2 separate regions of the Homo sapiens genome follow, and region 2 is linked to region 1. Evidence: fine-mapped expression QTL. A gene starts in region 1. The other region holds a variant in brackets. All regions are shown on one strand. Distances are from middle to middle.

What was found. PIP is the estimated chance that this variant, and not a neighbour inherited with it, causes the effect.
Region 2: its variant is fine-mapped to the expression of APBB2 in whole blood (TOPMed, PIP 0.91).

The regions. Positions count from the first base shown.
Region 1 is chr4:41,208,735-41,219,464 of GRCh38, forward strand. APBB2 (amyloid beta precursor protein binding family B member 2) reads right to left here and starts at 5,808. Exons shown (of 18, transcript NM_004307.2): 1 at 5,671-5,808. RefSeq lists enhancers at 4,101-4,180, 7,748-8,562, 7,870-8,119 and silencers at 5,183-5,492, 5,903-6,072, 7,690-7,739.
Region 2 is chr4:40,852,313-40,863,042 of GRCh38, forward strand. The region is part of intron 12 of APBB2 (amyloid beta precursor protein binding family B member 2); the gene reads right to left. Among named protein-coding and RNA genes, the nearest start is that of NSUN7, 110 kb to the left of the region's middle. RefSeq lists a silencer at 4,808-5,007. The variant C/G (reference allele first, on the strand shown) is at 4,824.

The DNA.
Region 1 (10,730 bases):
TTTATAACCACTGTCAAGTCATTAACCAACAACAAAGAAAAGCTTTAATCCATCCTTTTCTATACCATTCATTTCTTTCCATGTTCTCTTCTCGTATTTGTCCATGTGAATCTGTACATTTTATATATCAATAAATTATATATTGGGATTTTTCTCTGATTATAAAATAAATATACGTCCATTACAGAAAACAAGATAAGATTCAAACACCATGGAAATAAATTATATAGAAAGGGAATATCTCCTGTAACTCTACACACAAAGAGCTCTAATACCTTTAAACTGATCAAGCTTCTTACTTCCTGCCCAGTTGTGTGACTTGACCTTCCACCCTCTATGCCCTTCCTCTCTCCCAGCTCTCATCTAATGTCTGGAGTTAATGACCCACTCCTAACAGGGGTCCAGGAACCCTGGAGCCTGGTTATTAGAGGAACTAGAGTCACTCTCCCTTTATTAAAAATTATTTCAATGGGATAACAACTCCTCACTGACTCACTTAAAGGTTAATGAGGCTGAGTTTTGTGAGCCTCTTGAAAGCAAAATGCACTAAAAACACCAAATGGGATTGGTTTCCTTTGCTCTCTGCCCCATCGCAGCTTGCCAAGAAAAAAGAAAAAAAAGCTCATGATCCTGCTAATGACACTGAGTAGACACATTTCACCAGCCACCACTCCTGCTACTGCAGCAGCCAATCACAGGCATCTGTCCAACACAGTGACAGGGCTAACGTCAAATGAGAGTGAAAGTCGTATTCCAGAGACCAAGGGCTGCATTTCTCATCGAGGCGAGGAGACAAAGGCTGGGACACAGGAAAGGCTTGCCAAAATTTCACAAGGGTGGGCCTGGGAAGCAAAGCACAGGACCCCCTCCCCTGCAGCCTAGGTAGAGGTTTCTTTCTCAGACTATCTGTGTGCTCAAGAGCAGAAAGTCTCCCCGCAGAAAATGCTATGAAGTAGTTTCAAATGTCGAATACACTTTACCCAAATCTAATCATTACCTTATCTGCTAACTAGACTGGCAGGGCCATAAAGTTAATTTTATGACAACCATTTTATAACAAATGAAAACTATAAGGGAAGTAGGAATTGGGCAAAAAAAGAAGGGCATTGGACAAAGCAGTGACAAACCAGACAGGGAAACACAAAATCACCTCCAAATAATGCTCTAAACCAGTGGTCTCCAGACAGCGTTCATGGAAGACAATTTTTCCACGGATGGGGTTGGGGATTGGGATGAAACTGTTCCAACTCAGATCAACAAGCAGTAGATTCTCATAGGGAGTGCACAACCAAGATCCCACACATGTGCAGTTCACAACAGGGTTCACAGTCCTGTGAGAATCAAATGCCACCACTGATCTGACAGAGGTGGAGCTCAGGTGGTAAAGGTCACTTGCCCGCCGCTCACCTCCTGCTCTATGGCCCGGTTCCTAATAGGCCACTGACCAGTTCAGGTCCGAAGCAGGGGGCTGGGGACCCCTGCTCTTAAACGAAGACCTCTCTCCTCGAATGGCTGCATCACAGATCTCTAGACTGGGACAAGAAGGACCCGATAGACAACCAGAGGGTGACTGCAGCTCTCTCATTTTACAGATGGGAAAACAGGCCCAGAGACATAACTGACTTTTTCCAGGTAACACAGTGAATTGAAGTAAGGGACAAGCCAGCCCCAAAGGCAAGTCTTTGGGGTCCCTGGTTAGTAGTCTTTCCTCCAAATCCCCCCAGACCCTTTATTATGGAGAGTCTGTTACTCTGCCTCTGACAAACCATTTCGGCTGAGAGAAATGCCGTCAACACATATCAGCATGCAGAATATGCACTAATAACACATTAAAATCAAAATGGCTAATCTGGGTTTATCTTCTGACATCTAATTTCATTTGTTGGTAGTGCAACATTATTGAAAATAAATGAACACAAAACAGTTTTAAAATCTGGATAGAACCTTCTTGAAAACATTCAAATCATTCTGAAGATATGCAGTTCCAATCAAATTTAATTCTAAATAACAAATCAAAGATGCTTTAAAAGAGAATGCTTACTGAATAATAATGGAATCAATTAAAGATATTTTCATATAAGATAAAAGTTTAAAGCTCTATTGCTGTGAAATCACGAGCATCTACCTTTTCAGAGGGGTTTTCTTAGACAGCTGACATTTATGCATAGATGCTTACAGCATAAGATGATATATACAAAACCTTAATAGGATAATAGGACACATAAAAAGCACTGAACAGACCAGGCGTGATGGCTCACGCCTGTAATCCCAGCACTTTGGGAGACCGAGACTGGTGGACCTCCTGAGGTCAGGACTTGGAGACCAGCCTGGCCAACATGGTGAAACCCCATTTCTACTAAAATTACAAAAATTAGCCAGGCGTGGTGGCGGGCACCTGGAATCCCAGCTACTCAGGAGGCTGAGGCAGGAGAATTACTTGAACCTGGGAGGTGGAGGTTACAGTGAGCCAAGATCGCGCCACTACACTCCAGCCTGGGTGACAGACTGAAACTCTGTCTCAAAAATAATAATAATAATAATAATACTAGGCACTGAACAAATGCTGGTTTCCTAACCCCATGTAGGAAAATAAGTATTCCCCCCATAACCAGTAATAACTTATTACAATATTTTCCTAAAAGTCTGTCCCACCTGCTCCCCTCCCCCGCCCCCGGAAAACTTAAGGTGTTATATCACAAGGGTATTGTCCAGTTTTGTTTTGTTATTTATTTACTTATTTATTTATTTTATTTATGTATTTATTTTGAGACGGAGTCTCACCCTTTTGCCCAGGCTGGAGTGCAGTGGCGCGATCTTGGCTCACTGTAACCTCCACCTCCCAGGTTCAAGTGATTCTCCTGCCTCAGCTTTCCCAGTAGCTGGGATTACAGGCGGGAGCCACCACACCCGGCTAATTTTTGTATTTTTTTAGAGACGGGGGTTTTACCTCTTGGCCAGGCTGGTCTCAAACTCCTGACCTCAAGTGATCTGCCCGCCTCAGCTTCCCAAAGTGCTGTGATTATAGGTGTTAGCCACCGTACCCGGCCAGGTATTGTCTATTTTTAAAATGAAATTGAAAAAGGTACAGAGACACGACATACCATTTTTCTTATTTTTTCCTTCAACTTTTAAGTTCCAGGTACGTGTGCAGGATGTGCAGATTTGTTACACAGGTAAACATGTGCTATGGTGGTTTGATGCACAGATCAACCCATCACCTAGGTATTAAGCCCAGTATCTATTAGCTATTCTTCCTGATGCTCTCCCTTCCATTTTTCTTAAAAGATAAATTTAGATATCCAGTACTCAGGATAGTCCACACACATCATTATTCTAATATTATGACAAGGCTTTCAGTATTCATTCCTGTGGTAACAGAAAAATAAAAGAATTCAATGTTCATATGCTGTTTTTCTGGTGGCAGGAAAAGAAAACAGTCATCAAAAGGTTGAAACATGACAAAAAGTACCAGTTTAAAAATATTTTATGTTTGTACATGTGGATTCTTACAATATATGCAATAGTTTTTTCCCAAGTAATTTTGGAGTCAGTATTCACATTACTCCAGCTAAGTGTAAACACCAGTATTTTGCACTTTAGCTCATCAAGCTTTCTTTTTTTCAGAAACAGGATCTCACTCTGTTGCCCAGGCTGGAGTGCAGTGGCGTGATCATAGCTCACTACAGCCTCAAACTCCTAGGCTCAAGCAATCCTCCCACCTCACCATCCAGCTTTTCAATTACCACTTTATAAAAATTTCAGAAAGCCAGTTCACATTGGCTCCTTGAAGGTGAATTTATTCAGTTAAAAGTATCCATTAGAAGAGGGAATAAAAGCATAGGACCTAAAAACCTTCTGTGGAAAGGATCTCAACTTTAGAGTCGTCTCTCAAAGGCTCTCAGCAAATATCTAGAGACGTGGTTACATCCAGTTTACGAAGACTGTCGGTGACTTCGGGGTCATACAGTACATGGACAACGAAAGAACAGCAATTGAAATCTTGTACTTGTACCCCACCACCTTCCGCCCTATGATCAACCCACTGTACTCTACTGCCACCTGTGTTCTCTCGGCATTTCCCCAGCCTGGAGGTTTCCCCATTCTCGCCACAAATACCATCCTTCACGAACGATGCCATTTCTAGGATGTTGCAAGTTATGATAAACAACTGTTGAACAAATATTGCTTACAAGCTACAAGTTGAAAACGAGAAGGTTGCTACCTAAGTTCATGAAGAAATCCCCTTTCAAGGATTCCATCTGTTCCTAAAAGGCCAGCCACACAAATTCTAATACTCTGCATTATTATGGCCATTTGGGGACAAGATTTTAAATCTGAAACCATGACAAGAAAAAAAAAAAAAGCAAGATTTAAGAGAGTAAACTCCAGAAACAACAGATCAAACTGCCATTGTGTTTGTTTTTTTTAAATCAGTGAAATATTAAAACAAATGATAAACCCATGCCAACCTCACAAAGTTTCCTCATTCCTTGGAATTCAAACACCACCGATGGCATCATTTTATGATAATCCTTTGGGTATTTCACGTAAGTAATTAGACACAATGTAAAGCCAGTGACTGAGGGACTTAAACAAACTGTCCCCTCCGAGAGCCCAGTTGGAGCTTCCGACACTGACCTTATTCTCCTCTCAATTTTAACCCTCCTCAACCACTCAATCCATCCAAAAACGTCTGTGACAGTCGTGGCTCTAAAACCGCGCAGAACTTGACTACAGAACGGTCGGTGACAACTCCACATATGATTTATCCAAATTAATTTATTTTTTTGAATTCTAGTCCCATGCTCCCTCGGCTGTTTGCCCCGAACCCGTAGTCTACACCACTTCACCGACGTGAAGACCACCTTTCATTGTTTCTATGGGTCTCAGCATCCTTCCCTCCGTCCAGCTCTGTTCTCGCCGCACAAATGTCATTTCTAGCGTACCACCCTCCATTCCGCCCGGTGGGCAGCGCAGGGGCTTTCGGGTCCCAGTGGCCAGTTTCCTGGAGTCGGTCCCCTATGCACAGCCATTTTCTAGTTAAACGCTCTCTCTGCCACCGAGGGGGAAAAGGAACTTTTCCCCCCTTTCATGTCTCATGGGCTGGCCTCTGAACCCCTCGTGGAGAAGCCAACCCCGGCTCCAACTCCCCGGCAGGAGCGCGCTGCCGCCCAGGAGAGACAGCCGAGCGGCACAGCGGAGGCCGGTGCCAGGACAAGGGGGTGTGCGCTCTTCCCGCAGGCGCCCACCCTCACTTTTCCCCTCTGCAGTCCCCACCCGGGCGCACCGCCTCCAACCCGGTCTCCCCCGCCCCAGGCCCTGCCAAGCCGGGGCTGCTGAGGGAAAGAGGGCGCCGGGAAGCGGGAGGGATGGAAGTCAAGGAGAGTGAGCCCGCAGTCGCCGTGCCACTGGCCCTGCGGCGCGGGCGCAGGGCGCACGGGACTCCGCAGCAGGCGCCCCGCTGCAGATGCCGCGGCAGCTGCTGCAGGTGTGGCTGCGGCTGAGCGGGCAGCAGTGGCCGCGGAGCCCCGGGGCCGGGAGCAGAGGAGAAGCCGCCGGGGGAACCCGCAGCCGCTCGCCGCACGCTGCTGCCGCTACCCGGGTGTTTCCCCAGCACTCTCGTGCTGCCCCGGAATCCGGGGCAAAGGCAAGGAAGAAAGCTGGGCTCACCAGTGGTGCGCGCGGCGCTCGCCTCGGCTCCGGCGCCCAGCGGCTCTGCTCCAGTCTCGCCCTTCCCGGAGCGCCCAGATCAGATGCGGTTACAGCGCACTAGCTTCCTACTTGAGACCAGAACGGGCTCCGGCAACTGAGCATGCTCAGTGCCGTTCCGCGAGTCCCGCGCAGGGAGCGGCGCTGACGAGATTCCACTTCTCCAGGCTTTGGCAGCGGCTGCGCGAGGGAAGGCTGGAGGGACCCGGCGGGGAGGGGGCCGAATGGGAGAAAGGCGGGGCCGGGGGGTGGGGGCCGGGCAGAAGGAGGCGGGCCGCGCTCCCAGGGCGACCCCTGCAGGTGGAGGCGGCAGGGCCTGCGGGAGGCACCCTCCCCAATCGCCTGGGAACACGCAGGGAGGCAATGGGTCCCCCAGTAAGACCCAAAGGCAGGACGTGCAGTGCAGCCCGGGTATCCCCTCCGTGTGGCTGGTGTCTGTCTGCACCAAAAGGCAGTTGGGTTACCTTAGCCCTGGCTTTTCTCCCACACGCCAGCATTCCCTTGCAATAGGAAAATGTCCCCACAGGAGAGCTGCCCACACCCACCCAGGCTAACTGCAAGTTGTAGGCGACACCTTCTCCTTCCTTCTACCTCCTATCCCCACCCCCAGGCATATGCCGCACACACACTCTTCTTTGATCCGGAAATCACAAGATAATATCAGGGGAGAGATACAACTGCCGGAGAGGAAAAGGAGGTTTTCCTTTCCATTGCCAATAATATTATCTATAACTCTAATTGTAAGCGTGCAAACAAAGCCCTGATAAGAGTCGAGTCTCAGTAAACGGTAAACCGTGCTCTGCCCCAGACGCTGTGAATGACATCCCCAAAGTATCCTTAGGATTGCTCTTCACCAGGGCAGCGGTTGTCAAACTGGAGCCTGGATCAGAATCGCCTGGAGGGTTTGCTGAAGTACAAATCCCTGAGTCCCAATCTGTGTCTCTGAATGGGTAGATATGTGGTGGGGCCCAAGCATCTGTATATCTAACAAGTTCCCATGGGATGCTGATGCTGCTGGTGTGAGGACTATACACTTTAGAGAACCCTACCCATACACACACACACACACAGTCCTACCAAGGATCTCGAATTAAAAACTCACGTGATTCTTCCTATGAGGACTCTATGCAGTGGGGTGGGCATTACTTTATTCTTTCCTACATGAGTTTATTAAGGATCCACGAGGTCTTGTACTAGGCCTGAGGATAGTGGTGAATTTAAAAGCCCAGGCCCCTGCTTTCATGGAATTTATAGTCCGGCCGGGTGACAGACACCTATCAAATAATCACTCAAAACGGTTATTTCAAACAGGTAGAGTGCTGGGAGGGAAATGCACAAGGTGCGAATAGAGTGTATAGAGGGACCCTCATGCAGACTCAGTGAGGTTGTTACGAAGGGATGGGAGGGGGGCTGCCTTGTGGAAGGTGGTTTCTGACTTTTGCACTCCAATAACCTCTCCAATTAACAATTATCTCCCTCAGACCGAGCTGGAGGCCAGCAATCATGTCCCTCCTTCCTACAACATAAAAACAATACTGTCACAGAGAAATCCCTATAAATTCATGAAAAGTGTTTACTCTTGGGACTGAGTCTCTGCACCCCAAGATCCACCTAACACGTCCGTGGACCAAGGACAGTCGAGGGCCACAGTAGACCTCTTGGGGAAAATACAGGCTCTCTGAACTGGAGAGCCTGTGGTTCTTAGTCTGTGATCTTCAAGGCCAAAGAGGCAAGGAAACCAGCCCAAGACCACCATTCCCGTCAGGAGCGGAGATCGACCAGCCTCCAACCTTGCAGACGGGTCCTCTTTCCAAGGCACTCTATTCCCGGACCTCACAGCTCCCCTCAGATCCCCGGAACCCGGCCTGGCCACCCCGCTCTCTCTCGGGGGTCCGGGGTAGGTGAGCGGAGCCTGCCCCTCCCAGGTCGGTCTCTTCCCGACGGAGAGGAAAACCCGCGGTGGAGTCCGCGGCGGCGGGGGGGGGGGGGGGGGGGGGGGCGGGGCGGCGCGCGCAGGCGCAGAGGCCGCCAGGTTGGGCCGAGGAGGCGCCCTGCTCCACACCTGATGCAATCAGCCTTCCGGAAACGGGTCCCGCTGCCGCGCTCACCCAGGAAACACTTCCGCGCCCTCCTCTGGCCGCTGAGCTCCCGGGGACGGGTTCCCAAACTCCCCCGGCCCGACTTCGCCACGGGCGGTGTTCTGCGCCCCGTCGGGGATACGCCGGAGAAGTCGGGAAGTCACTGCCTGGGCACACAAAATCCCTGAAATGCCCTGACAGTGACGTCGAAACGGCCACCAAGCGTTGCGCAGCTGCAGGAGGAAATTCCCTTAATTATGAATTTACAGAGGGGACTGATCGGGGCCGGAGGGAAGGCTTTGACCCTTCCCTTGCTTCCTTCCTTCGTCCGCCTCCCAACACATTGTCTCTCTCACTGAAAGGAACGTTTAACAGCAGTTTTAAGGCAGTATGGAGAGGAATCTCCATGCCCTCTGTCTTGCTAAATATGTAACAGCACTTTAGCTTTGCTACATAAAGCTTTCCCACCGCGCGCTCATTTTATAAATACGTAATTGGTTTCTGCATACCTCATCATTTCAGTTTACAAAGAAAATCATTTCTCGTTTCACCACTTCATGCAATTTTTATATCTATTGTGAGTGGGTTTTTTTCTTCATGCTGACTCACCCATTAATTGTTTTCCAAGGAAATGAAATATCCAAGAATATTCCAAGAGCATGTTTTTTAAAGCATGGAAGTAAACGCTGTGAACAGTAGATAAAACTGACCTCTCTTAAGTCCCTTAAGGCCAAAGGTCCTCCTAGGGAGTTGGGGGAAGGAGGCAGATCCAAGGAATTTTATTTGGAAGGATACCTCAAGACCATTCTAGAATCAAATCAAGATCAACTCTTAGACTTTACAGATGACATTTACCTCTCTGTGGCCCAGAGAAATAAATGACTTCTTTATTTAGACAAACCAAAGGCAGAACTGGCACTTGAAGCCAGATTTCTCAAAATTCCAATCTAATGGGGAAAAAAAAATGTTTTTTGCACAAACACCGTAGGGAGTGCAATACTATATTACAATGCAGTTTTACAATCCAAAGATTACAAAATACAAAATAGGTGACAACAAAAGGGATCCTATTACTTGTTCCTGTGACGTCATTAGTCTTTAAATAGTCCATGATCAACAAATATCCAGCCACTTCTAAGTGGCATTGAATAGCCAGAGTCTAGGAATTAAATATTTCAATTAAACAGGTATGAGTCAGGTGCAGTGGCCCAAGCCTGTAGTACCAGCTACTGGGGAGGCTGAGGCAAGAGGGTACATGAGGCTGGACGTTCAAAGTTGCAGTAGGATCTTGCCTGTGAATAGCCACTGCACTCCAGCCTGAGCCACACAGCAAGACCTCATCTCAAAACAAAACAAAAAAAACAGTATAACTACAAAACATCAAGAAATCTTCTGTGCCAACATTAAGAACTTCTAGTATTATTATTTGATTGTGTGGTATATGTGCAACGGTTTGAGCTTAAACCAAGGGAATTTTAATGATCACAACAAAATATCACGGTCATGATTTTCTTCTGTAATGATTTTAAATACTTTAACAATTTAGTAATCAAAGTGAAATAAAAAACAACTCAAAACTCATGCCTGCAATAAGATAAAATCTAATTCTTCAAAACTCTGTCTACCTTCTTATCTTGAGGAATGAATTTCTTTTTGGAATGTTCTGACAGAGATCTGGAGGAACACCTTCTATTGAAGCAAAAATAGAGTTGAGTAAATGTCAAAATGCAGAGGTACAAAATACACACTGTCACACGGTACTAGTTTTAGAATAGCTAACTCTTACTGACTATTTAGCATGTGCCAGATACTGGCTAAGCATTTTCCATAGGTTATTTAACTCAATCCTCACAACTACCCTATAAATGAAGCACTATTATTATCCCTATTTTATGGATAGGGAAAGTGAGGCTTGCAAATGTGAAGCAGCTAACTCAAGGCACAAAATATTCATTGGCAGAACTGGGATTTGAACCCAGGCAGTTTTCCTGGAGCTTGAGCTCTTAAATAATACTATGTATGGAAAAATGTAAATACAGAGAAAATGACTATAATGATTCTCAGATAAGAAAGGAGAGGGAGTATTGTACTTACTCTCCTAAAGATAAAACATAGTAAAATAAGTTTGTAGTCCACACTAGGAAAAAACCTTTTGCTAGCTAATAAATTATGGTCCCCAAATATAGGACCAATATTACCCAGAGGTATGAGGCAGATGATCAAATATCGAGTGATTTTTCAGGGGTACCAGCAAGGCCTCTTCTCTGATGAACCCTCTACGCCTGACTGGTTTCTCTAGTCCTAAACCATCCAATATGGCAGTCACTAGCCACATATGCTTATTTAATCTGAAATCACTTAAAATCAGTTAGAATTAACTCTTCGGTTCCTCTTTCATACTAGCCACATTTCAAGTGCTCAGTAGCATATGGCCTAATGACTACTGTATTGGATAATGTAAGTAAAAAGCATTTGCATCACTGCAAAAAATTGTATTCAACAGTGCTGCTCTGGGCCTTAATGTCATTAGGGCAATCCTTTAATCTCTCTTCATACTGCACTATTCCTGGGAGGACCATGTTTCCATGGTCTACCTTCCCATTGAGCTTCAGTCCTATTTTTCCAAACTAAAATTATTATTAGAGTGTAGAAAGGTACAAAGAGGTACAAAGCATAAAGTCCCCTACTATCATGGAAAGAATAGGGGCACTGGAGTAAGACCTTATTTCACATTCCAGCTCTTAGTAGTTGTGTGACCTTGGGCAAGCTACTTTACCTCACTGAATCTCACTTTTCTTATCTGCAAAATGGGCATGTTAATTTTTTCATTATAGGTTTATTTAAGATTAAATAACATATGTAAAGCTTCTGGTAGGCCTCACATAGGATGATTTCCTTCCTTCCACTCCTATTTCAGTTAATGACATTCCCCAATTACTCAGG
Region 2 (10,730 bases), 360 kb before region 1:
TGCACTCCAGCCTGGGTGACAGAGCAAAACTCTGTCTTCAAAAAAAAAAAAAAAAAAAAGTAATTATGAATGGATTCTTATAAACTGGGAACAAAGGTAGAATAATTCCATATAAATTAAGGCTTAAACCCATCTTCTCTTCTTAGTCTGATTCTTTATTTTCATGCCAGAACAAAGAAAAATGCTCAAAGGTCTCATAACCAGTTGAGAATGACAGAAAGGGTACTGAAGGGTGAAAACATCTTGGAAAAATGGCCAAATACACAAGATTGCACTGGATGGATACGTCTGCTCATCTACACTGGAGAACCAAAGAAAAGAAAGTCAAAGTCTTTTTTTTTTTTCTGAGACAGTGTGTTTCTCTGTCACCCAGGCTGGAGGGCAGTGGCGCGATCTCAGCTCACTGCAACCTCCATCTCCCAGGTTCAAGAGATTCTCGTGCCTCAGCCTCCCTAGTAGCTGGAATTACAGGCATGTGCCACCATGCCCAGGTAATTTTTGTATTTTCAGCAGAGACAAGGTTTTGCCACGTTGCCCAGGCTGGTCTTAAACTCCTAGCCTCAAGTGATCCTTTGGGGACACTCGGCCTCCCAAAGTGCTGGGATTACAGCATGAGCCACCGTGTCTGGCTTAAATCAAGGTCTTGATACAACATAAATGTAAAGGGAGTTGTTCCATGGCTTAATAACTTTGTCCTCGAACAGTTATTACTTCTATTAGCATGTATTTTCTACAGACATAAACAACGCATCAAAGAAATCAGGTATGGTCCTAGATCACACCCCTTCCTGCATCTTCTACAGTCAACTTGGCGAGTTCAACCTCCACATTTCCCCCACCCACCTGCTTCTCTTCATGCCCTCTGCCATGTCACTGATCTCTCCTGGACTAGGGCTAGCCAACTGGTCCCTCGTTTTCCACTCCTGTTCCCAATATCTATTCCCTGAGATCTTTCTGTATGAAATAAACTAGATCATGGCATTCCCCTGGTTAACCCTCTTCACGGGCACCTCATGGCAAACCTTTAAGCACTGCCCACAAGCCCTAAAGGATCCTGTCCCCACCCACCTCTTCCAGCACAAACCACTGGCCTCCTCTTCATCCTCAGGCACGTTGAGTGCTCCACTTCCTCAGTGCTTTCCTTCTTTTTTTTTTTGCGATGGAGTTTCGCTCGTTGTCCAGGCTGGAGTGCAATGGCATGATCTCGGCTCACTGCAACCTCCGCCTCCTGGGTTCAAGTGATTCTCCTGCCTCAGCCTCACGAGCAGCTGGGATTACAGGCACGCACCACCATGTCTGGCTAATTTTTTTTTTTTGTATTTTTAGTAGAGACAGGGTTTCACCATGTTGGTCAGGCTGGTTTTGAACTCCTAACCTCAGGTGATCCACCTGCCTCGACCTCCCAAAGTGCTGGGATTACAGATATGAGCCACCACACCCAGCTGTTCCTCAGTGCTTTCTATTCACTCCCTACATGGCTGGCTTCTTCTCAGCCTTCAAGCCCAGCTCAAATGTTGCCTCCTAGGACAGGCTGCCTCCTGATGGCCCCTTTCCCCTCTGAGCTACTCTGTTGCATCACGCTGTTGATGGTCTTCAAGACACTCGGCATAACCTGTATCATCTTGCTTCCTGAATTGTTTTTCCGGCTTATCTCCTGCCTCTTCAAACAGGGACCTCATCTGTCTCAGTCCTTCATGCTGCCTCACAAGGTGCCTGACACATGGATGCTCCTTATCTGCCGAACAGCATATTAACCATTAGACTATAAATATTAAGCACATGGATGGTCAAAATTAAACCCTAAAAGTAGACAATGAAGTATTTTCATCTACATTCATTCATCTGCCCATTCATCAACTGGGTTATTTATGGAGGGCATCCTATACTAGGTACTATGTTAGGGCCCGAGGAATCCAAAAGTCTAAGAACTCCTCAAATATGTCATATTCTGTGTTCAACACAAGCTCTTTAAAAAGACAAGTTACACTACTACTTAGTATGTTTTTCTGTGATCCTAGAGATTTGTGAAAACCTAGATAAGAGGTTATATGCCATCAGTTTACTCCCAAAAACCCATGAAACGTATATGGAGAGTAAATAGGGACACAGTTAAGTCATCTCTTAACACTCGGGAGCCTGGACAGATGTAAAGCTTTGCTCAGCCAGTGGTACAGAATGAAATTCATTTCCTAGGCCTGGCGCGGTGGCTCACGCCTGTAATCCCAGCACTTTGGGAGGCCGAGATGGACAGATAAGCTAATGCCAGGAGTTTAAGACCAGCCTGGCCAACATGGCGAAACCCTGTCTCTACTAAAAATACAAAAAAATTAGCCATGTGTGGTGGCGGGCGCCTGTAATCCCAGCTACTCGGGAGGCTGAGGCAGGAGAATCGCTTGAATCTGGGAGACACAGGTTGCAGTAAGCCAAGATTACGCCACTGCACTCCAGCCTGGGCGATAAGAGCGAAAGTCCATCTCCAAAAAAAAAAAAAAAAAAAGAAGAAAGAAAAAGAAATTCATTTCCTAGGGGGGCTGTCCAAGAGGAAAGCTGTATAGGTGAGACAAGGAGGCTGCATGACTGATAGTTTTGTAACAAACTGGAATTACCCCATTGAAATCAACAATGCCAATGTTCAAACTCTTTAGAACTCAGCTCTGCCCCTCCTTGCAGCTGCAGGCTCCTTTGAGATCAAAGTAAGCAAGTTCAAGATGACCGACTTTAGTGCCCAATGGCCCACTGGTGTGATTAATACTTCCACCCTTGGAGTGCAGATGACCTGAGGCCCCTCGTTGTTTGCGCCTACTGCCACATGCTCAGCTGACCTCCAAGGCGGCCATCAGCAGCAGTATCTTCTTGTCTCACCTTGGTGTCATCCACACTGCTTCCCAGGGATGCTCCAGTGCAGAGAACCTGCAATGGGCCCCACGCCAGCATAGTGTGAGCTCCAAGAAAGGAAGAAGACACCTGTTGTATTTATTATGCCACTTAATCACCAGCACCAATGCCCAGCACATGGCAAGTGTCCAATAAATACTTATTAAATAAATTATCCCCATTGCAGAAAAGCTAGAACTAAACAACGTGGCGGCTGTTAGAAAAGTGTGTTTCTCACATCTGCAAAGTGAGAATGATAAAATGAGGCCAGGCATGGTGGCTCATGCCTGTAATCCCAGCACTTTGGGAGAACCGAGGCAGGTGGATCACCCAAGGTCAGCAGTTCGAGACCAGCCTGGCCAACATGGTGAAATCCCGTCTCTACTCAAAAAAACAGAAATTAGCCGGGTGTGGTGGTGTGCACTTATAGTCCCAGCTACTCAGGAGGCTGAGGCAGGAGAATCACTTGAACCTGGGAGGCAGAGGTTGCAGTGAGCCGAGATTGTGCCACTGCACTACAGGCTGGGTGACAGAGAGGGACTCTGTCTCAAAAAAAAAAACAAAAAAAAGGAAGCAAAACGGAAAGTAGGGTTCTTACTGAGCTACAAACCATGACACCTTCTTTGATAATACTGGCTGATGCTTTATGGAAAGTCTTTCCCCTCTTAAGCATTTCATTCACACTCCCTTTTACTTATAACTTTTACAAAATTACAGACCACATTTACAAACACATTCTGCTTCTAACTTCTTAGGAAAGGCCTCAGGACACTTAATAATTCCTTTCTGAACTCAACTAACTAAAAGGCAGCAGCAAGGATCTGAACTTTAGAGAGAATCTTACAAACTACTCTTGTGTAAGAGCTCGGCTGGAGGAAGGGCCAACTGCTCAATGGCCTAAGAAAACCTAAAAGAGAACAGCATGAGGAAAGCAGGCAGAACCCCCATTCATGATACAAGTCAAAGCCAGGCTGCAGCTGCAGTTATAAAAAGAAAGAAAAAGACTAATGGGATTGCCCCCTCCTTCCGCCTTCTCCCACCCAAGGCAGTAATGAAGATTCACAGCTACACATTAATTAGGAATCCATAGACGTGCCTGGTTACAATATTGGTATAGGGAAACAGATAATAGAAAAGGCACAGATTCCCCCACAAGCTAATAGAGTGTTGTAAGCAATATTTAAATCTTCACGCCTTTCTTTTCAAAAACACTACTTCTTTCTCAATGCCAAGAGCTGGCTGCGTTTCTACATTTGGGGAATTTGAGATATTTTCTCGCATGGAAGTCACACCAATATCCTAAATCGTGTAACTAAAATCATTTGGAAATGCACAGTTTTTCTACACGAAAGGATATTGCTTTTAATCCAAATACTGGATTACCAAAACCCTGAAATATCTTTCAGTCCTAATGTAGACAGGAAGACAGAAATGTGGCCTCACCAGGGGGCACGTGAGGCGAAGGCAGTCACTGCCTCAATCATAGAACGCTGTCCACGGCAGAAATGCCCCGTGCAGACCCCATCAATGAATAGCCCACCCCGAACAGTCCTGCTGCACTGGCGAATTGGGGGTCCAAGGACGCCTCCCCCCCATTTCATACAAGCCTCACTCCTTCTTCCCACCGGCGGGGCAGAAAGCCCCCTCTTCAGCCCTTCCAGCCGTCCAGGACCAGGCAACTCGCTAAGCGCTGACTCGGGGAAGGGAGGGCGCAGCCTTTGTCCCGCAGGTCTCCCGCGCCCGCCTCGCTGTCCCCGCGAGCGAGCTTGGGCTCGACCCCCGTTCCCCCTGAACGCACCTGCAAACAAAGGAGAGCCGTTCCTTCGCCAACTTCCTCACCTTTGCCTCCCGGTCCTTCCGAAGTCGGGCGGGGATGCCGCCCCAGGTGCTACGACAAGCCCCAGGGTGCCGGCACCAGCCAGCGGTGCCGTCGCTCAAGCAGCCGCGCG[C/G]ACTGCCCCGGGCTCAAGTTGAAGAGAGCGGCGCCCGCGCCTCCCTGCGCCCTCCCTGCCCCGCCCGCCGCGGCCGCCCATTGGCTGCTGGGGAGGCGCGTGGCCCCGCCCCACCCGGCCGCACTCCCGTGAAGTGCTCCCGCTAGGTGCTCCCGCCAGATGCTCCAGCTGCTAGGGGACTGGCTCAGGGCCGGCAAGGAGGATCCCCCACCCCAACATACTCCCTTCCTGTAACGAACGTTTCCTTTTTGGACTCTCAAGACTTAGAAACTTCATTCAAACCCACTGAACCTCTTTAGAAAAAGTTGATGCTCTAGGCCTGCTGGGTTTCTGGTTTCTTTTCTTTTCTTCTTGAGACAGAGTCTCGCTCTGTCGCCCAGGCTGGAGTGCAGTGACACGATCTCGGCTCACTGCAACCTCCGCTTCCCAGGTTCAAGCGATTCTCCTGCCTCAGCCTCCCTAGCAGCTGGGATTACAGGCGCCCGCCACCATGCCTGGCTAATTTTTCCTATTTAGTAGAGATGGGGTTTCACCATGTTGGCCAGGCTGGTCTCAAACTCCTGGCCTCAAGTGAGCCGCCCGCCTCGGCCTCCCAAAGTGCTGGGATTACAGGGGTGAGCCACCGCACCAGGCTGGGTTTCTACGATCCTGATTGTGGGGCGAGTGGGGGAAATGGGGGGCGGGGAGGGGTGGTTGGGGAAGGGAGGTATTGCAGCCCACAGCCAGAAAGCCTTTGGGCAGAAAGACAGAAACCAAATTGTAGTTTTATAAATCTGAATAATCAGATTTCAAGAGGCAGAAAATTCTGAATCGAGCTGGAAAGTGTTTACAGATCATCTGCCAATTTACACAAAGCACTTAGCAGTACACCCCTACACCCTTTTGTAATCCCTACCTCTTTTAAGACACCTTTTGTTTATAGCTGACTTGAAGCCAAGATCCCACAGGCACCCCAACATTGTCATCTCTAGCTGAGCGCCCCTCCCCCCATATACATGGAAGCAGAAAATGTCCAATTGGCTAAGTGACAGCACTTTCAGCACTTTAAGTAAGAGTCCTGGCTAGCCACTAGTCATATAAATATATGAGTTGGAAAGGAAAATCCAAGGTCTCTCACTGACTGTATTCTGTGAGCACTGAAAGTACTTCCTCTTTCTAATTGTTTCTGGGCAAGCGTAAGTTATTTGATTAGCCAATTAACAAAGTGAAATAGGGAGGCTGAGGCAGGAGAATTGCTTGAACCTGGGAGGTGGAGGTTGCAGTGAGCCAAGATCGCGCCACTGCACTCCAGCCTGAGTGACAGAGTGAGAGTCCGTCTCAAAAAAAAAAAAAAAAAAAAAAAAGAGCAAAATAGGCAAAGCATATTAGCCATGTTTTTGGCTATATTCAAAGTCTCATACGCTCCTTTTACAAAGAAAGGAACAGAAAATAGGAAATACACATGGAAAATCAAGGGAGTATTTAACTATAGGTCTTGTTTGGGTTTGGTAAAACACACCACAGGTGTACAGACAACTTTAATGTTCATGTTTAAATGAGGATCAGGTGTTTTCTCATTTGTTCAACATTTACTAAGCTCCTCCTAAGTACCAGGTTCTGTGCAGAAAATTTTATATTATGCTTTTCTAGTTAACAGTTGTCTTTCTAGGGAGGGCAAGATTTAACTCATGCTGTTTCTGAATCTACGATCAGTAACACTTCAATTATTTGGAAGAGTTATTGACAGTAAACTGCTTTGGCAACCACAACTGTCTGGAACACAACACAAACTGCAAGTGAGGCTAGAAGAGGGTTTAAGACTTGGGGTTCAGCAGCCAGAACAGACAGCAGCAAGCTCAGAGATATGAAACAAGTTAACAGGATTGTACCTGTCACCCCTTCAAAGGCTGCCTCTCCTTCCTTACACATCATTCCAGTGAGTTTGGTTGTCTGATTCTCTGTCTATAGCAGGGCAGAAGCAACAAATAGATGGGTCTGCCAGATGTCCACAGGGTACGTCAAGTGTGACAGCTGAGGGTCTGCTGGCAGGAAGTCATGTGTGACAAGTCCTGCCAACTCTGCCTCCTCCTGCTCTCTCCAACTTGCCCCCTTCTCTCAACTCCATGCTGCCACCCTAGTTCCAGCCAACATCTCATCAGGAGGGCTGCTGTCATTTTTTTTTTTTTTTTGAGACAGTGTCTCACTAGTGCAGTGGCCGCTATCTTGGCTCACTGCAACCTCCTCCTCTTGGGTTCAAGTGATCCTCATGCTTCAGAGATGGGGTTTTGCCATGTTGGCCAGGCTGGTCTTGAATTCCTGGCCTCAAGTAATCTGCCCACCTCAGCCTCCCAAAGTGCTGGGATTAGAGGCATGAGCCACCGCACCCGGCCTGCAGTAGTGTTTTAACAGTCTCCTTGCCTCCACTCATCTCTAACAAGCTGTTCTCACAGGAGCCACACCTGTCCCTTCAAAACAAAAACAAAAATCACAAATGCGAGTCCCTTCAAAAACGAAAATCACAAATATGAGTATCCATGCTCGAACCTTAAAACCACACAGTGGCTTCCCACTGCAATGCAGATAAAGTCTATAATCGCTTTCAGGGTCTCACAGGCCGCCTGGGATCAGGTCCCTGCTTCTATCTCCAATGCTGCAACCACATTCCCTCCTCTTTGTCTCTGCTCCAGTCCCCTTTTCTTCTTCCAGTTCCTGGAACACGCCCAGCTACTTCCCACCTCAGAGCCTTTGCACTGACTGTGACCCTCCTAGAATGCTCTTCCCTGCACTGCTCACCTGATGAATCCCTCTCATCTTCTAGGAATCTCAGCCCAAAAGTTGATTCCTTTGGAAGATGTTCCTGACAGGCAGTGTCCTCCCTGACAGCATCCCAGGCTTTTCCTTCGTACTCCTGCTGCAGCTTGGTGTTAAATATTTGGAAAATCATCCATTTATTATTCATCTCCTTCACTTTACAGTGAGCTTTATAAACTTACAGAGTCTGGTTTTGTTTCTGTACAGTGAAGAATTCAACCTTGGCTGAAGAGAGCCTCTGCCTTCAGCTTCTGGGAGGTAAACTCTAACACCTTGGAATGTTGTGCCTGACTGGGGTGTTTCTGTTTGCCTAGTGGCCTTGGGATACACTAGAGGGTCTAATAGGGTGATCTGGGGTGGGCGCTTGGCCCATGCAGTATCAGCTCCACCTCTGGAGGGACTCGAGACTGAGATTAGCCCTGGACCAGTTGTCTATGCCTTTGGGGTGGAGCCTCAATAAAAATCCTGGACACCAAGGCTTGGATGAACTTCCCTGGTTGACAATACTCTGTGCTATTGTCACACGGCAACACCAGGGAAGTTATGCTGCCCAGGACACCGTGGGGAGAGGACAACTGAAGGCTCAGAACTTCCCTGGACTCTGTCCTATGTGTGTCTTCCTTGGGCTGATTTTAATCAGAATCCTTTCCCTGTGACAAACCACAACCATGAGCATAATCACAGCCCTCAGTGAGCTCTATGAGTCCTTCTAGCAAATTATCAAACCTGAGGGTGGTCTCATTGACTATTCTCTAACTTGGCAGTTTCCCGTTGTATTTTCGGCAGTAAGCACATTTCCTGACATACAGTAAGTGCTTAATACATCCACTATTGATTAAATTTAATGTTACTATTTTTTAACCGATTTTTTTATATGACCAGGTAATCAGAATATAATGCTTTTATGATTTAAATAACAAATTTCCATTTTGCAAATGCCTACTTATGAGTTAAGGTCCAGATCAAACAAATGCCATCTCTCCCATGAGGCCTTTCCCTACTTCCCGAGGGCTCGTCACCCTTGCCTTTGTGTTCTCTGGCCCATCACTTTGCTTTCGAAGCATTAAGTAGTAATAAAATGTATTTCTGACCAGCTGGGCAATATAGCGAGACCCCCATATCTACAAAAAATTTTAAACATTAGGCCAGGTGTGGTGGCTCACGCCTGTAATCACAGCATTTTGGGAGGCCGAGGTGGGCGGATCACTTGAGGCCAGGAGTTCGAGACCAGCCTGGCAAACATGGTGGAACCCTGTCTCTACTAAAAATACAAAATTAGCCGGGCGTGGTGGCACGTGCCTGTAATCCCAGTTGCTCAGGAGGCTGAGGCAGGAGAATCACTTGAACTTGGGAGGCAGAGGTTGCAGTGAGCTGAGATCACACCGCTGCACTCCAGCCTGGGTAACAGAATGAGACTCTGTCTCAAAAAAAAAAAATTTTTTTTTTTAAACATTAGCCAGGTGTGGTGGCTTGCACCTGTTGTCCTACCTGCCTGGGAGGCTGAGGCAGAAGGATTGCTTGAGCCCAGGAGTTTGAGGCTGCAGAGAGCTATGATCTTGCCACTGCACTCCAGCCTGGATTATAGAGCGAGATGCTATCTCTAAAATAAATGAATAAATGAATGAATGAATAAAAATAAAACATCTGCTTTTGTGAAGGATATCTATGTTAGATAAACTCTGAGTCCCTACTACTGGGCATGGGGCTTGTACAGAAAAGGTACACAAACGGTGTTTATGGAATGAAGGCAGTTTTTAAAAACAGGTCTGGTTCACAGAAAGACAGGTTCAATTATGTGTGAAATTCTGGTACATATTACAGCTAATTCTCTGATAAATATGGTAGCTGTTACTGTAGTAACTGAGTATTATGAAGGTGTTCTATTGTTTTCTTTTTTCTTTCTAAAAATAAAAATGTTACTCAGGATTATGATACACTTTAAAAAGCCAGACATGCTTTAAATAAAAATATGGAAACTGATCACCCAACTTTTAAAAGGCATCTGACTTCCTAATTAGAATGAAATATCCCAGTTTATTTACAAAATACTGTGAAAGAAAAAAAATTCAACAAACCTAACCACTCATCTTTCTTTCATAGAAACCTAACTGAAAATTCAACCAGGATACCAATAACCTATGATGTCCCCAAGTAGCATAGAAAAATCAATTTTACTTCCTTCAGACCTGCATTTAAACTGGATAATAACTGATATAACGTGCAACAGCCATAATCCAATTTCAATTTGTTTGATTACATGAGTATAAACATTAAACAAGAAAGTCACAGGACTGTTAGGACAATGTTCACGCTATTAACTCATTATAGAACAAAGCATTATAATTTGCTCCTAGAGAACATGCTACTAAAATACATAGATATGAATTTGAACTATCCTTAAATACCATCCACAAAGATCCTTATATTGCCTCAGCCAAAGATAAAAGCAGCTCTGAATGTGGAAGCCACTTCAAAATCTCCTGAATTGAGGATAAGGGAATCCCTGAAGGATTCCTTAAATATTTGAGACTATTTTAACATCCATTTGTATGACACTTGCATAATCAGAGGATTTCAAAGCAGCACCCAGGTTAGTGGTCTCAAACTATAACGTGCATCATAACAGTTAAAATGATGGTGCCGGGCGGGTCCTAGCCGGGCACCGCGGCTCACGCCTGTAATCCCAGAACTTCGGGAGGCCAAGCCGGGTGGATTACGAGGTCAGCAGTTCAAGACCAGCCTGGTCAAGATGGTGAAACCCTGTGTCTACTAAAACTACAAAAATTAGCCAGGCGTGGTGGCAGGCACCTACAATCCCAGCTACTTGGGAGGCTGAGGCAGGAGAATCACTTGAACCTGTGCGGCAGAAGTTGCAGTGAGCCGAGATTGTGCCACTGCACTCCAGCCTGGGCGAGAGTGAGACTCCATCTCAAAAAAAAAAAAAAAAAAGCGCCACAATCTCAGAGGGTGTAACTCAGTAGGTCTCAAACAGACTCCTCGCTTTTTTTACATAAGCACCGTCCCTTCTGACCCAAATGATTTGGAGGCAGGTGTTCAGGGGGCTGTACATTGAGGATTCAAAACTGTTTCCAGAGAAGGGGACTGGTACTTTGTGTC